2 separate regions of the Homo sapiens genome follow, and region 1 is linked to region 2. The links come from fine-mapping of genetic effects on gene expression. A gene starts in region 2. The other region holds a variant in brackets. All regions are shown on one strand. Distances are from middle to middle. Region 1 overlaps USP34 (ubiquitin specific peptidase 34). Region 2 holds the start of CCT4 (chaperonin containing TCP1 subunit 4).

What was found. PIP is the estimated chance that this variant, and not a neighbour inherited with it, causes the effect.
Region 1: its variant is the best candidate, but not a certain one, in a credible set for the expression of CCT4 in nasal epithelium (TOPMed, PIP 0.83).

What each region holds. Positions count from the first base shown.
Region 1 is chr2:61,279,963-61,285,201 of GRCh38, reverse strand. USP34 (ubiquitin specific peptidase 34) reads left to right here. Exons shown (of 80, transcript NM_014709.4): 35 at 245-327; 36 at 1,753-1,793; 37 at 1,933-2,057; 38 at 3,960-4,112; 39 at 4,854-4,958. Among named protein-coding and RNA genes, the nearest start is that of C2orf74-AS1, 100 kb to the right of the region's middle. The variant C/TC (reference allele first, on the strand shown) is at 2,398.
Region 2 is chr2:61,885,937-61,891,175 of GRCh38, reverse strand. CCT4 (chaperonin containing TCP1 subunit 4) reads left to right here and starts at 2,520. Exons shown (of 14, transcript NM_006430.4): 1 at 2,520-2,795. The coding sequence starts at 2,669. It also overlaps a transcript of COMMD1 not described here. RefSeq lists enhancers at 1,251-1,810, 2,750-2,829, 2,371-2,930, 2,931-3,492.

The DNA of each region.
Region 1 (5,239 bases), 610 kb after region 2:
CTACAGTTGCTGCTCTTAAGTGTGATTATAAAATTCTGGTTTTCCGATTCTTGGCATTTTTACAGTATTTTCAAAGAATTCTTACGACATTCTTTATTGTGTTATAGATAAATATCAAAATAATTTGGAATTTTGGGTTAAAATTTTGTAATACACATCTCTTTAGTAACTAAATCTTGAGTGCTTTTTGAGGGTTTTCCTTTTGCTGTATTTAAATATCTTTTAAAATGTTTTTGTTTTAAAGGTATTTCTTGTTCTTGTCCAAGGAACCAGTTTGATTCAGCGACTTATGTCTGTTGCTTATACGTATGATAATCTGGCTCCTAGGTATGCATTTTAAGATATATTTTATGTGTGTATGTATAGCAGGAATATAATGTTTTAAAACTTTATTTTGAAAAATTCTAAACTTAATAGAAAAATTTGGGGGATATTATGATGAAATCTCTCATACCTTCCATCCAAATTTACGTATTATTAACCTGTTGCTAAAATGTGTCTTGTATTTATGAGTCACGTATTTTCTGTGTGTTTACATGTTTTCCTGAATCTTCTGAGACTGAATTGCAGATATCATGACTGTTCACCAGTACTTTGTTGTGTATCTCCTAAGACCAAGGAGATTTTCTTAATAGCTAGAGTAAAATTTTTAAATTTATAGAATTTAACATTGATATGTTATCTAACATATAGTTCATATTAAAATAATCCTATTGGTATTCTTTATAGCAGTATTTTTCTTGCTTCAGGATCAACTAAATGTATTGCATTTAGTTGTCAGTTCTTCTGTTTCTTTTCATCAGAGATAACTTTCTCAGCCTTTCTCTCATGATACATTTTCAAGTAATGCAGGCCAGTTATTTTATAGAGTACTTTTCAGTTTGAGTTTTCATGATTAGCCTTCATGATTAGATTCAGATTATGTATTTTTTAAAGGAGTCTTAAAGTTTAGACTCTAAATCATTATAACCTATGTGTTTGTCACACACATCTCTTTAGTAACTAAATCATGAGCACTTCTTGAGGGTTTACTTATTTCAGTCAATGTTTTATTCATTCAAATTTTGTTTATTAAATCTGAAGTCATTTCGTATTTGCTGTAATAAGATTTTACCAGTGATTCTTTTATTTGGTTTGTTTTTTATTTTGAAACATACAATATATTTTTATTGACTAGACACCCTGCTGTGTAATAGATTTCAAAACTTCCTGCTCTATCTGGAACTTCATACCCTTTGACTTATACCCTCTGCCCCACCCCACCCTACCCTACCCCACCCTCCAGCCTCTGGTAACCATTATTCTACTCTCTTCTTCAATGAGTTTGACTCTTCTTCAGTGAGTCTTTAAATAAATGATAAAGAATATAAAACAAATAAATAATGGAGCTCTCTTAAAATATAGTCTCTTTTGCAAAAATTAGCTGAGTGTGGTGGCACATGCTTGTAGTCCCAGCTATTGGGAGGCTGAGGTGGGAGGGTTGCTTGAGCCTGGAAGGTCAAGGCTGCAGTGAGCCATGATCATGCCACTGCACTCCAGCCTGGGCAACAGAGTGAGACCCTGTCTCCTGTCTTTTAAAACACACACACACTCACACTCTCTCTCACTCTCACTCTCACTCTCACTCACACACCCACTGCTTTCCTTTTTTGGGGGGGAAGTGATAACCTTAAAGGATATATGTTAATAAATTGAATTATTTTTAATTCATTGCTGAATTTAATTGGTGGTGGTGGTGTTTTTACTTTACAGAGTTTTAAAAGCTCAGTCTGATCACAGGTCTAGACATGAAGGTAAGGGTTCCACAAAGTTAACTTTTAATAAATAAAAACTTGAATAATATATTGATATATTTTACCTTTAATATTGAACATTGTGTTTTCATTTTAGCACAAACCTTTTATAGTGAACTGTTTTCTAATTTTTCTTTAGTTTCACATTATTCAATGTGGCTCTTGGTGAGTTGGGCTCATTGCTGTTCTTTAGTGAAATCTAGCCTTGCTGATAGCGATCATTTACAAGATTGGCTAAAGAAATTGACTCTCCTTATTCCTGAGGTAAGATAAAGATTGAAGGTTAGTACTGTTATTTTTTGTATGTTTTCATGTTATTAGCATTGATAATAAAAGAGCTAATGGAAACAAATATGCGTGAGTCCATAAATATATCACATTATCTGCTTAATCCTTTAAGGTCTAGAGTGTTTTGAACTATGTACAATGTTTAAGAACTTCTGACTATTATATATTATGTAGCATTTATATTTTTCTGAAATGTTTATAGAATGATTATTTTGCTTTGGATTAATAAAAAAAAGTTTTTCCAGGTAGTAGGAAGGGCTTGAGAATTTATTTTGGTAATTTATGTTTTAGAAAAGTTCTGTGGCCTTTTTTTTTT[C/TC]TTTCTTTGAGACAGAATCTCCCTGTTCCCTGTATCACCCAGGCTAGAGTGTAGTGGTGCAATCAAGGCTCCCTGCAGCCTCAACCTCCTGGGAACAAGCGATCCTCTGGCTTCAGCCTCCCAAGTAGCTGGGACCATAGGTGCACATCACCATGCCCAGCTAGTTTTTTAACTTTTTTGTAGAGACGGGGTCTCGCTGTGTTGTCCAGGTTGGTCTTGAACTCCTGGTGTCATGTAATGCTCCTGCCTCGGCCTCCCAAACTGCTTGGGATTATAGGCATGAGCCGCTGCACCCAGCCTGTGTTTTCTATTTAAGTAGAAATAGAGGCTAGAGAGACTACAAATAAATAAAAGAAATATATTTTGCTTCCCATGTTGACACTGAGGCCAATATAATTTTTATTAGCTGTATCTTGGCATTACTCACCTCATATTCCTATGTGAAATAATAGAAACACACAGTAATATATTTAGCTCCAAAGTCACTTATTTTTTAAACCTGCGTTGTCTAATAATATTAGCTCTGGCTGGGCACTGTGGCTCACGCCTGTAATCACAGGCCGAGGTGGGTGGATCACATGAGGTCAGGAATGCAAGACCAGCCTGGCCAACATGGTGAAACCCTATCCCTACTAAAAATACAAAAAATTAGCTGGGTATGGTGGCAGGCACCTGTAATCTCAGTTACTCGGGAGGCTGAGGCAGGAGAATCGCTTGAACCCAGGAGGCAGAGGTTGCAGTGAGCCAAGATCGCACCACTGCACTCCAGCCTGGAAGACAGAGCAAGACTCTGTCTTAAAAACAAAACAAAACAAAACAAAATTAGTTCTGGATATAATGTCATTTGTGTTCTAGTCCTGTCTCAGGTAACCATTTTGACATTTGGACAGTTTGCTTACAATCTATAGAATATTCCGATTGAAGTTGCTTCTGTGTTGCTTCTAGTTCTGAAAATATTTTATCCTCTTACTGACTTGTAAATAACTTAAATGATTCTAAATGTCCTTACTCAATTATTCTTTGTATTTACCTGTTGTCATTATTTTGTTTTGTTTCTGTTTTTATGGCCATGCTTTAGGATTTCTAAAACACTGTATTTATATATTATGGTATACCTTGAGATACTTTATTTGATCATGTGTAATTTACATATATATATGTATGGGATTAGAACATTATATTTATTAATTATTTTTATGAGGCATAATCTTGTTCTGCCACCCAGTCTGGAGAGCAGTGGCATATCAGCTCACTGCAGACTCTGCCTCCCTGGTTCAAGCAATTCTTGTGCCTGTCTCCAGAGTAGCTGGGACTACAGGCGCAAGTCACCACACCCGGTTAATTTTTGTATTTTTTGTGGTGACAGGGTTTTGCCATGTTGGCCAGGCTGGTCTCAGATACCTGGCCACAGGTTATCCTCCTGCCTGGGCCTCCAAAAGTGCTGGGATTACAGGCTTGCCCGGCAGAACATTGTATTTAAAATCACCTAAAATTATTTCTGCTAACATATTAACTTTGTAATACTAACTCTCACTGTTTGTGGAACTTTCTTTTTCATCTAGACTGCAGTTCGTCATGAATCATGCAGTGGTCTCTATAAGTTATCCCTGTCAGGGCTGGATGGAGGAGACTCAATCAATCGTTCTTTTCTGCTATTGGCTGCCTCAACATTATTGAAATTTCTTCCTGATGCTCAAGCACTCAAACCTATTAGGGTAAGATTTTACTGTGTTTAGAAGCAGTTTCTATTTTTGAAATTTCCTTTGCCTCAGTTTACCGTTGTAATATATCCTTAAAATTTTGATCATTTGACTACTGTATGTGATTTTTTACCAAGAGGATAGTAGTTATATACTACTTAAGGTGACAGCATTGTGACACATTGTGTCCATGTTACTACTAGGAAGAGACTGATTTCAGCTCTGTGGTCTCTCATGGATACTCTATTTTAGAAATAGCATTTATTCTCACTCGGTTCTGGGCCTTGTGTTAATAAGTTGACTAATAAAAAATCATAAATGGAGCTCTCTTCTCTAGTAAGTCACAGTTTTCTTTTTATCTTTATGATATTCAGAATTTTAAATTTTATTTCCTACCCTAGTTCATATACTAGTCTTTAAAAGGCTTCTAATACATAATAAATTTAGAGCCCACTTTTTACTAACCCCAGAAATTCAGTGTGTTGTTGGATTTACATTATTTTCCTCCCTGTTCATATCTTTTTTAATGTCAGTAATTTGAGACTAATATTTTCCTAAAAGTTCTTACGTTTGTCATTTTTTTGCCTGGTTATTCTGATTTTACAGAAACTAAGCGTGTACTCCATTTTTAAAAAGATTTTGAATACTGTTTAGTGGATATAGGAATTTATTTCATAAAGCCTCTAGTTTCTTAAATGTATTATAATTTTATTTATTTTTAAAATGTTTTCACAAAGTATAAAATTTTTTTAATAGATAGATGATTATGAGGAAGAACCAATATTAAAACCAGGATGTAAAGAGTATTTTTGGTTGTTATGCAAATTAGTTGACAACATACATATAAAGGACGCTAGTCAGGTATGTTCAGAAAATTATATACTATTCTATGTATTCTCTTCTTGTTAATATGAATTATGACATATGTTCATGACTTTATTGGTTATTAAGTGTACTTCATTAATCTATAACTTGGTGGTGGTGTCCTATTTCTACTATATTTGTGCTTTTCCACCTTCTTCTAATTCCTTTCGTGTTTTTACTCAGACCTTAGTTGAAACGTCTTCATCTGGTATCTATCCATAATTTCCTGTCTCTTCTCAGTAAGATACGTGGATGTAACATCTTATTTGGAAAGGGAA
Region 2 (5,239 bases):
GAACTAGTAGTTTAGTAAGCCCCTAGAGATCATCTAGTTCAACCCTCCTATTTTACAGATGAGGAAAATGAGACCCAAAGGATTTAAGTGGCCTTCCTTAGGTCACATAGCTAATAAGTAGCAGAGCTATTAATAAACTCAAATCCAGTATTTTACATCCCAAAATTAATGCATTTCCTCATCACCCACTTGTTTCCAACATATTACATCAGTTGTCTAAACAAATAACCATAGAATTTATGTGCTACTTGGGAGTATTCTGGTCCTCTGAAGAGAAGTCGGCCTCAGAGGTTTATGGATCTTCATTTCCTAGTGCTAATATCCTTCTTTTTTTTTTTTTTTTTTTTTTGAGACAAAGTCTTGCTCTATCACCCAGGCTGGAGTGCAGTGGCGCAATCTCGGCTCACTGCAACCTCCACTTCCTGGCTTCAAGGGATTCTCCTGCCTCAGCCTCCCGAGTAGCTGGGATTACACCCCCGGTTAATGTTTTGATTTTTAGTAGAGACGGGGTTTCGCCACGTTGGCTAGGCTGGTCTTAAACTCCTGACCTAAAGCGATCCACCCACCTCGGCCTCCCAAAGTGCTGGGATTACAGGCGTGAGCTACTGAGCCAGGCCCCTAGTGCTAATATGCTAAATGTGTGTTAAAGAACAACTTGGCGAGGTGGCTCTCGCCAAGCCTGCAATCCTAGCACTTTGGGAAGCCGAGGCGGGCCTATCACCTGAGCTCGGGAGTTCGAAACCACCCTGTCCAACATGGAGAAACCCCGTCTCTACTAAAAATACAAAATTAGCCGGGCATGGTGGTGCATGCCCGTAATCCCAGCTACTGGGGAGGCTGAGGCAGGAGAATCGCTTGAACCCGGGAGGCGGAGGTTGCGGTGAGCCGAGATGGTGCCACTGCTCCAGCCTGGGCAACAAGAGTGAAACTCCGTCTCAAAAACAAACAAAAACAAACAAACAAACAACACCACCACCACCTCATAATTACAAGATTAAGTACCTTTGAACATTTGTTTCTGAACCTACCACACGCAACTGTCACTTTGCAGGTGCTTAATAATTGTGAGCGAACATTCAACAAACCTCATTTCATAAACTTCCCTACTGAAATATAGTGGTCATAGGAGACCAGCAGTTTAGCTCATGGCTTCTGGTCCTTGCTTTGTATTGGAATACTGCTTCTATCTACTGACTCGTTTACCCTGGGCTTCAGTTCCTTCTTTGGGCTCCAGTTCTCTCACCTTTTAAGTAAAGGATTATTGTGAGGACTAAACGAGATATAAAACGTGTAAAGGTTTAGCACTGTGCTTAGCAGATAACGGAAATAAATGATCTTTATTATAATGTTTACGTTCCCTAAGAGTCAGTGGCTACGTCATGCAGGAGACACTAGTGTAGAACAAGCGGGCGGTGGTAACTAGACAGACCTGATTTGGCAGTCTGTCAAACCTCCACCACCCAGTATCAACCAATACGAGATAACTAACCTCGCCTCATTCCAAATCTCCCTTTTCTGACTCCCTTTCAAAATGAACAAAACTGCATAAAATGCAGGTCTATGTGGCCGGGCAAAAACAGACTCAGTCATATCCCTTAGAGAGTTATTCCGGCGCCCACCCCACCTCGCGGATAGATCCAGCCGGAGTTAAAGGAGGGCACCTCCGGGTGGGCGCGGTGGCTCACGCCTGTAATCCCAGTACTTTGAAACGCTGAGGAGGGTGGACCGCTTTGAGCCGGGGAGGTCAGACCAGCCTGGGCAACACAGCGAAACCCAGTCTCGCTATGTTTCGAATACAAAAATTCGCTAGGCATGGTGGCGGGCACCTGTCGTCCTGGCTAGTTGGGAGGCTGTGGCGGGAGGATCGCTTGGGCCCCGGAGGTCGAGGCTGCAGTGAGCCAAGATCGCCCCACTGCACTCCCGCCTGGACGACAGAGCGAGACTCTGTCAAAAAAAAAAAAAAAAAAAAAAAAGGCCGGGCTTCGTGGCTGACGCCTGTAATCCCAACACTTTGGGAGCCCGAGGCGGGTGGATCACCTGAGGTCGGGAGTTCGAGACCGGCCTGGCCAACATGGTGAAACCCTGTCTCTACTAAAAATACAAAAATTAGCTGGGCATGGTGGCGGACGCCTGTAATCCCAGCTACTCGGGAGGCTGAGGAGGATCGCTTGAACCTGGGAGGCGGAGGCTGCAGTGAGCCGAGATTTTGCGCCACTGCACTCCAGCCTGGGCAACAGAGTGAGACTGTATCCAAAAAAAGAAAAAAAAAAAAAAAAAAAGGAGGGGACCTCATAGCCGTGCAAGGTGGAGTGAGGAAATGCGGATGTCCTCACCACTCGCCTTTAAAATCGCGCGTTGTCATTGCTGCCTCGCGTAAAGGTTCCCCCGGCGCTCTTCACCCACAGCGCCCCGGGCGTACAATCTCGCCAGCCCGGAGCCCACCGCACGCATCCTCCTCGCCCGGCGCGCAGCGGACAGCCTCCTACGTCACGCCAGCGCCGCGCGGCAAGGAAGGCCCCCTTCTCCGCCTCCGCCTCCTCCCGACGCCGGCGCCGCTTTCTGGAAGGTTCGTGAAGGCAGTGAGGGCTTACCGTTATTACACTGCGGCCGGCCAGAATCCGGGTCCATCCGTCCTTCCCGAGCCAACCCAGACACAGCGGAGTTTGCCATGCCCGAGAATGTGGCACCCCGGAGCGGGGCGACTGCCGGGGCTGCCGGCGGCCGCGGGAAAGGCGCCTATCAGGACCGCGACAAGCCAGCCCAGATCCGCTTCAGCAACATTTCCGCCGCCAAAGGTATCACTCTCATGGCCTGACCCGCGGCGCCGCGGGGTTGTGCTCTGCGCTCTCATCGTGGGCTTGAGCGGGTTTGGCTCATTTCCCATTTCTTCGGGTGATCCTCTCTTGTCCTCCCTATAGAAGCAGCCCAGTGGAGGGATCCTTATTTCTGTTTTTCTGCCGATGATCGCCAACCCGGAGTATGGAGGCCTTTGGACTTGCCCCATTTTGCATCTTAATCTCCCTTAGTTTTTCATCCTGCACTGTGCATCATTCATATTGGAGCCGAAAGCAGTTCAAAATGCCGAGGATTGCATGCAGTCTTCACTAGGGATCTGACGCTTGAGGGCTGTCGCTTATTGCTTATTGGAACTGGTAGAATGCACAGTATCTTTCAGCTTTGTTATTCTTATTTAAAGAACTATTAAATAAACTTCACTTGGCACAACTGTTGAGACGAATTGGGTGAACTCTCCGAGTCTAAATTGGGGCGGGGCCCATTGTACTGGGATGGATGTGGGAACCGACTTACGTGTCGTGTTTGAAATAGTTGCGGAAAAGTTACGTTGATGTCGTCTCCGCATGTGCAGTGAAACATAGGCAAATCAAGAAACAATTATTTGTTTTTTTTGTGGAAGTGTGTGGCACACGTTGGAAATCAGGAAGACCAGAGTTTCATTCTCTGCTTCCGTTACTTCATGTCTTAGTGACCTGTAACCTCTGTGCCAAAGATTCACTTATAAAATTGGAGGAAAATGTTTGCTTTTTAGAGTTAAGATTAAGAGAAATCGAGTTGAAATAGAAAAATCTGGAAGGAAAAGTCAGGACAGAGGTTTAGAGATCTTGCCCGAGTGTATATTGAGTATAGTAGTTCTTTTGGGTTGGAGAATAGTAGTATGTTTACAGAAGAGGTGAGATTAGAAAGCTAGGTTGGGGCAGATGTTAAAGGCCTGGTGTCCTGGAAAGTATTTGGCTTAATCTCCCCCAGCTATGGGATCATTTCTTTTTAGCCATCGTGTAGGCTTGCTGTGAGGATTCAGTGAGAAAGCATATAAAGACCCACGTATATAAAGTACACCTTACATGTGTTTGCAGTCATCAGCCCAAGTAACTGGGAATGTGATGGCGCTAAGATAGGTAACGCTGGATGTAAGAAAAAGTAATAGTTTCTAACTTGTCCTAATGAGTTGGAAAGGTCAGAATGGCCAGATTTAGGAGTCATTTGTAAGTTTAGGAGATAATACACCTGGAAACGAAGGTTTGTAGGATAATTGTCTAGGGACCATAGTTGAAGCTTACATTTATTAGATTAGGAACAGAATGTTGAAAGATAAATTTTGGGTCGGGCAGGGTGGCTCACGTCTGTAATCCCAGCAATTTGGGAGGCTGAGGCTGGCGGATCACATGAGGTCAGGAGTTCAAGACCAGCCTGACCAACATGGAGAAACCCCGTCTCTACTAAAAATACAAAATTAGGTGGGTGTGTTGGCGTAGGCCTGTAGTCCCAGCTACTCGGGAGGCTGAGGCAGGGGAATAGCTTGAACCTGGGAGGCGGAGGTTGCCGTGAACTGACGTCGCGCCATTGCACTCCAGCCAGGGTGACGAGCGAAACTCCGTCTCAAAAAAAAAAAAAGATAAATTTGGGGGCCAAGAGAGTTTATAATATGGTTGATATTCAACAAACAAAATAAGTGGGAAATTTAGCAACCTTTGAAACAAAAGCAGACAAAGAACTGAAACAACAGAGGAGGGTGTGCATGTGGGAAGGAAAGGCCACCTAAGTTATCTGTGAAGATGACCCGTTATGTCTTAAACTCCTGGCCTCAAGTGACGGCCTGCCTTGGCTTCGCAAAGCGCTGGGATTACAGGCGTGAGCCACCGCACCCGGCCCCAGAGATGTTTTATAACATACTGATGATGACCAAAAGCTATGATTTGAGAGTTTTGGTTTTTGTTTGGTTTGTTAGGTTTGGTTTGTTTGTTGAGATGGAGTCTGTCTTGCTCTGTCCCCCAGGCTGGAGTGCAGTGGTGTGATCTCTGCTCATTGCAACTTCTGCCTCCTGGGTTCAAGCGGTTCTCCTGCCTCAGCCTCCCGAGTAGCTAGCTGGGACTACAGATGCGCACCGCCACACCCGGCTCATTTTTGTATTAGTAGAGGCAGGGTTTCGCCATGTTGTCCAGGCTGGTCTCGAACTCCTGACCTTAGGTGGTCTGCCCGCCTCAGCCTCTCAAAGTGCTGGTATTACAAGTGTGAGCCATCACGCCCAGCCTTGTTGGATTTTTTAGAAGAGTATCTTGCTCTGTAGCATTTCCATTGTGGTTTGCCCTTTTGGCGGTGTTGGCGGGCCACCTATCTACCATGTTCACATTAGTGAACAAAAGTCTTTGCTCTCAGAGATTACATACTAGACAGAGTAAACAAATAAGTGAATTATCTGTAAATTGAGCATTCCTAATTTGAA